2 linked regions of the Homo sapiens genome follow. The protein of the gene in region 2 purifies or fractionates together with the protein of the main gene of each other region. This does not show direct contact. Each region holds a gene or a part of one and is shown on either strand. Other genes may lie near its edges.

Region 1 (3,746 bases), on a different chromosome or scaffold from region 2:
CAAACCAAAGCTGTTTGCTCAAAGTGGAGTACAAGGAGCATTTAATGTAAGTGCTTTTAAACGAGCGAGCCCTTTGTCATCCGATAAATGGCAAAACTCCGGGGAAGAAGGGGCAGTAAACACAAGAAATCAGCACTGCTGCTTCAGGGTGTGGGCTGCATGGGAGCTGGGCTCTGAAGGAATTTCAAGGGCCTTAGGCTCTATTTTGACACACTGGTTTAAGTCCATTCGCGAGAAAAGCAAAATATTTTAAAGGTCTCGCTCTGTTTTTCTCCTTCCTGCTAATAAGCAGAAATGGAGTTCAGTCTTCACCAGCCCCCACTCTGACCCCGTCTGAAGACTGATCTTTGGAAGCCCCGTTAATGTCTGTTTACAGCTCTTACAGACTACTGGGGTCTCTGTGCCACCCTGCGATGTCCGGTCAAGATAAGCTTATTTGCATGTTAGCTTCTGTTTCTTCAGAGGAAAGGGACACCCCTGCCCCCCAACTACAGGCCCAGGACTGGGTTCAAGTTTGGATTCTTACATTCGGACCCTGCCTCTGTCAAGATCTCCCTTGGCTTCAGGCTAAGCCCCATCCAGCGGGGAGGGATGGCTCAGGGCCGCCAAAGAGATAATGGGTGGGCAGAGGCTGAGCTGCTGGGAAGCATTGTTCAGGGAGGTCCAAGTGAAGACAGTGGCCACTCTGTCTGTTATGTCCGCTGCCCAGGAGTCCCAAAGCCCCCTTCCCCACTGAGGATAGCCGACAGCTGGCCCACCTCCTCTCGTGCTGGCAGAAGCCCAATCTCTTCACCTCTCAGCCTGGCAACTCCCTCCACAGACATCCCAGAAAATCCAATTGCAGAGCCCACCAGTTCCCCAAAACCACCCCCTGAGATACAGCAAGTGGGTTTCACAAACAGCCTCAGCCCCGCGGAGCTCCAATCTTTTACTACGTTGCCTTTAGAAAATTACGCAGCTCCGAGTGTCAGTTCATCATTCCGATCGACTGTCACTCACACGCATCGGGACTTGAGAACATCAGGGGAATATGAAATCGCCTTCAGGATCATTTGAAAAAATTATGGCAATGACACATTCCCCCGTGAATACTCCCATCCAGGGCGGTCCCCTACGGGGCTGCCAGGATGAGCGCTTACTTCATCTTTTGTCAGACGACAGGTCCAGCAGGGTTAGGCTGAAAGGGTCTTTGGTGGCCGCATGAAAAGCAGCATTCATTAGATCACACACAGGAAGGATATTTACCCGTTGATCACACAGGGCCCGTCCTTTTTCTGGCAGTCCTTTCCCGAGTACCCGGGGGCACAGGAGCATTCATAGAGGCCATCGTCCAGGCTCACGCAGGTCCTGTTGTTGGCACAGGGGGCCGAGGAGCAGGCCCGAACATCTGCGGGGTGACGGGGAAGACGAGAACTTAGCTTCCTCTCCATACACGAGCGTGATGCGGGCCCCAGTGGGCTTTAAAATGGCTCTATGGCCACCGAGTGGGGTCTGGAGTAAGAGGGTTTAGGGAGCCCCCTCAAAAAAACCCATGAAGTGAGTAAGCTGAGGCTCAGGAAGCTGAAGGGGTTTCCTTGCCTAAGGTCACAGATCAGAAAGTCGTGGCCACTGATATTCAGGCCAGGATAGCTGTTCCCTTTGCCTGGCACCAGGTCACCCCATATCCAGCGACATGTCCGTGACGTTCACTGTGGACATCATGCCCCTCCCTGCAACAGCGTGCCTAGCTGAGATTCCCTAAGGCCTGTCTCCACCAGACAAGACTGCATCTCCACCCTCTCCTGTTAGGGGAGGGGTCCTGGCCAGCCGGGGGATGAATACAGCCCAACCCTCAGAAAAACCACCAGCTCTTCATACTTTTCCATCAAAGAGGGGCAGTGGGGGGGATGGAGATGTAACGACCCCCCTCCGTCAGGAATCAAGAAACCTGTTAACCCCAGCACTACCACGTGTCCCTGTGGTCTCTCTTTCTGCACTCAGGCTCTGAACTCAAGGGGTCCCTGGTAAAAAGGCTTCATCTTTTAAAGCCAGGGAAATTAGAACTATTGAGCGCTCTCCTATCAGCACAGGTTTCCATGAGCACTGGTATATTCCCACCATCTTTTAACACCTTCCATCACGCACACTTCATTATTCAGGTTCAGCAAGCCAGGGATGAGCTGAACACAAGGGCCTGAGTCAGGGGCTCTCTGATGATGGAGACCCCAGCTCCCCAGTGGGGCCAGGAAGGGACCCCTGTCCTGCCCTGTATCCGGCCTGCTGCCATGTGGCAGCAGAGTTCAGCTCCTACCCATTCTGGGCCTCAGTTTCCCTACTTATAAAAAGAGGGTCTTTCCCTGGCCAATCTCTGAGGGACTCTTCAGCTTTGATTTTCTATAATTTGAGCTGCTGTACCTGCCAAACAGAAAGCCAGGGCCAGTGAGAGACACAGCAAGCTAAGGCAGGCTGGAGGGGGTGGGGGGAGGGGAAATCCCCCGTGCTGAGGCCACACATGTGCGTATTTTTTCCCCCTCTCAGAGAGACCCACACCCTCGTGGAGGGGAGACTGCAATCAATCAAGGAGGAAGAGCCTGAACGTTGTGTTGATGGACTACCCCGTGGTGTTCCATGGAAGCCCGGCTTGGTGCAAGGACACATAAAGAGGATTTATCTTTACGGGACGGCACCGGCAAGGCATTAGCACGTGGCGCCTCCGCGTCAGGCTCCTTATTCTCTGCACCCGACTCTCCTGTCACTCAGAATCTTAAATTTAAGCTAAAAAGCTGGCGACCACCCCCAGCTTGTCCCTGCAGCTCTCCCTGCTATGCCAATCCTGGATCAGCCCTCCTGAGCCTCCAACCCCAAGACAGGGGTGAATTAAGCTGCTCTGAGGAAAAGGCTGCTTGGGGGTCTCTGCTGGGACAGCAGCTGTGGCCACGACAGCCTCAAAGATGGGCAAAAAGGGAGAGGGAGGGCTATGTCTTCTCTGGGACCCCAGACTCTCTGGCCATCCCCAAGCTGGCTGCCTTTGTCAACTTGGTGGGGAGGGGACATACCAAGGGCCCATGAGAAGGGAGGCATTTGTCCGGAAAATTTCAGCAAGGGTGTACGGCATTTAGATACCAAAAAGATGGGCTCCAAGCTAAAAGCCTAACCCTGATCCCAAATGGTGGCTTTGCTGGAATCCCCCAGATCCTCAAACGACTCAGAGCTGCTGCCGCTGCTTCTGTGAGGGGCAGCAGAGATGCTGGCCAGAGCATGAGTCAGCTGCGGGTAAACCTTGCACCATATTGCAGGGGCTGGAATTAAGGACCAGAGACAATTTGGGGTGGGAGGGAGCTCAGCTTCAGAACCACGGCTGCCCTGGCTGTACAGGGCAGGGGCCACAACAAAATGCTCTTAGGTGTTCCTTAAGGAAGGATGTTAGATGCAATCGAAGATAAAAATTAACTCTCTTTCTGGGGCTGGGGGAAAGGGTTGTAGCTGGCTTTTTGCCCAACTTCTTTCATATTCCTTAGCAGACACTTGTGCTTCTCTGATCCTCAGTTTCCCTATCTGTACCGTCTTTACTAATGTTGGGGACTGAGGGACAGGGGCCCTGAGGGCAGGCTGCTACACAGCTGGGAGTTTTTTTGTGGACTTCAGTTTGCTCAAACGTTAGGGCTGGTTTTGCCAAATGAAAATGGGCTTAGACGAACATTTCGCAGCCTGAAAATGCAGTGACAGCCAACTCTCAATTGCTTGGGGTAATGGAGGCAAAGATTGCA
Region 2 (2,624 bases):
TGCCTTGTTCCTTCTCTAGGCATATATTTGTGGCCGGGGGGGGGGGGGGGGGGGCAGGAGGATATGAGTCCTGGGGGACAGGTAGCAGGAAGGCTGCATCCTGAGTTCAGAACTAGCTTGGCCTGGCTTCCTGCACCACCAAGGGAAGGAAAGAAAGCGTGGCAGGGGAGAGGAGAGAGAAGTAAGGCTATAGATGTGAAAGCATCATAAACAAGGGCCTGGCGACCCACATGCTCAAATACCATTGTTTTTCTTTGGGTGAGGTACAGAAAGAGGGAGGCCCTTGTGGCTGGCCTCAGAGCAGGAAAATCTTACTAACTGGGGTCCCTTCTGTTGCTGCTGTAGCTGTTTTTCCTTGTGTCTAGCTGAGCGGCTTGTGGTCCAAGCCAGCTTTCTGCAGGGAGCCAGGTGTGTGTGGGGGAGGAGGGCAGAGCTTGCAAAAGGGCAGGCTGATGTCTTCAGCCAGGACCCTCCAGCCTAGCCTGTCCTGCTCTTTGAAAGGGGAGGACTGTCCTCAAGTTTCCTAAGGGACTGGGGAACCAGAGTCAACCCCTATCCCCAAAGCCCTCTAGACTCCAGAGAATTCAGACCAATTTTCTGTTTCTGAATTGCAACCCGGCGACAACTCATTAGAAGGCTATGAAACCAGGTAGGTGTCTTGAGTCCTAATGAGTCAGGGGTCCCTGGCTACAAGTAGTTATGGCTGGTGAGTGATGTGGGAAACAGGTATCACTGAATAGCTTTATTGAGCATTTTGGGCTGGGCACTAAGCTCAGCACTTTAATCCCCACAACTGGCCAGTGACATAGCTGTTACCCCACTTTACAAATGAGGGAGGACAGGTCACGGAGGCTCGCTGCCTCAAATGGCAGGCCCGGCTGCCTGGTCCCAATGCAGAAAGTACCCAATGCCATGCCTGGCACATAATGACCCTCAGCGGAGGTTACCCCTCCAGTCTGCAATCAACACCATTGGCCCCAGGTGGAAGGGATCCCAAGCTCTCTCCAGCTTTCCAGTGGCCCTTAACCATGGGTCACCCTTGCTTGGGAATCTGCCCCCAGACAGGACGCTTCCACTTCCCCCAGGCCTGGCACTGCCAGCCACTGCCCCTCTGCAGTGGCTTTCCAGGAGCGGGGCAGCAGCCCCTGTCCTCCCCACCACTCTGACTCTGGCCTTTGCCTGTTGCCGAGGCTGCTCCCTGCCCCGTAGTGAGGACAGCTGTGTGGCTAGGGGCCCGTCATGGTGCCACTGCCCACCTCCACCACCCAGCAGTGCTTCCCAGTCTATCACCTGCCATCCGCCCCATCTATAAGCTGGCAGCTGCTGCTCTAGCCTCAGGTGAGGAACAGCCAGGAGCTGCTGGCATGAGGCTCTGGGGCTCAGGTGGGTCTGGTGCTTCTGTGGGGAGGGAGGCAAAGAAAGTTTACTCCCACCTTGACCTGGCCTGCACCGGGGGCATCTGGGGCCATGCAGGTGGCAGATGTTGGGTAGAGGCTGTTGAGTTTAAGCTTTCCTCCACAACGACACCTGCTCCTGGGCCAGGCTGGGCTGGCATCCTCTTCTGCTCTTCCCATCACTGACCCCGGGGGCCCATCTGCAAAATGGAAACCACAAGCTGAGCTTGCCTACTTTGCCAAGTTGATGATGGCTGCAGTGAAACGTGCCGGATGCACGTGGAGAGCCAGCATCACCTGGGGCTCTCTTGCTGTTGGGGTTCTCTGCCCCTGGCCCCAAGCCCCATTGGCCGTCAGCGGCAGAAGCCTGGCATCGATGGAGAGGAAGGTGACCTCATCTGACTTACAGCAGGAGGACACTGAGGAGCAAAGCAGCTAGACAACGGCAGTGGTGAGGGTCCCCACTTGGCATCAGCGATGTGGTCACTGCTGGCCAGTTCCCTCCAGGGCAGGGAACACGGCCACCGACTCCATGGCTGGGCGGTTCCAGACTGTCACATAAATCAACCTGGGCTTTATGAAGCTAATGAATTTGCGTCCAAGATTTGGTTTGGAGCCTCGGGTGGCAGGATGATTTAATTAGCTTTGTCTTTAAGCAAGAGGGAACGTAATTGGAGAAGGGTAGTTCCAGATGTTTTGAGTTTTCAGCCACAGTGGGGCAGCCAGGTCTTCCTTGCTCTTGGCCTGACCACTGCAGGCCCCTGCTCTACCCAACCTGAGAGGCCTCCTGGGAGGAAGTCGCAATGATAGATGGAGAAGGGGCATTTGTTTTTCCCGTGGATGGAAAGTGACACGTGGGGACAAGCTATGAGAAACACTGAGGTGCGACGGCACAGAGAAAGCGGGCTGAGGCCAATTACACCACGCAGGGACTCTCCCAGGCTTCAGCTGCCAGGGCAGAGGTGGCGCAGCCCGTGGGCTCCCCGAGTTCCCTGCAAATCCCACCCCTGACCCTGAGACCACCTTGGGCCCCGGGAGACCCTACATCGTCGCTCTGTCAGAGGTCTGAAGACGCTGAGATACAGGGGAGGGGCTGAGCAAGGCACTGAACTCAAAAGAGGGAGGGGTGGGGCCTGAGACCCACCCCAGAGAGGTAGCTCCAGGCCAGGGGCTCTGGGCTCCAGGACAGGTGGGGCCAGGCCCAGGGCTGGGGGCAAGCCAGTGAGGGTC

Evidence for each region.
Region 1: the proteins of SLC38A12 (region 2) and DLK1 purify together in Homo sapiens (co-immunoprecipitation; one large-scale study listed by IntAct). This does not show direct contact.

Annotation. Positions count from the first base shown.
Region 1 is NC_000014.9:100,729,683-100,733,428, reverse strand, and holds part of DLK1 (protein delta homolog 1 isoform 1 preproprotein), read right to left. Parts: intron 1,388-3,746; coding exon 1,246-1,387; intron 1-1,245. UniProt on the Homo sapiens protein: May have a role in neuroendocrine differentiation.
Region 2 is NC_000017.11:74,837,857-74,840,480, reverse strand, and holds the end of SLC38A12 (transmembrane protein 104), read right to left. Parts: 3' UTR 1,595-2,624; coding exon of another isoform or gene 1,380-1,594; 3' UTR 728-1,379; downstream 1-727.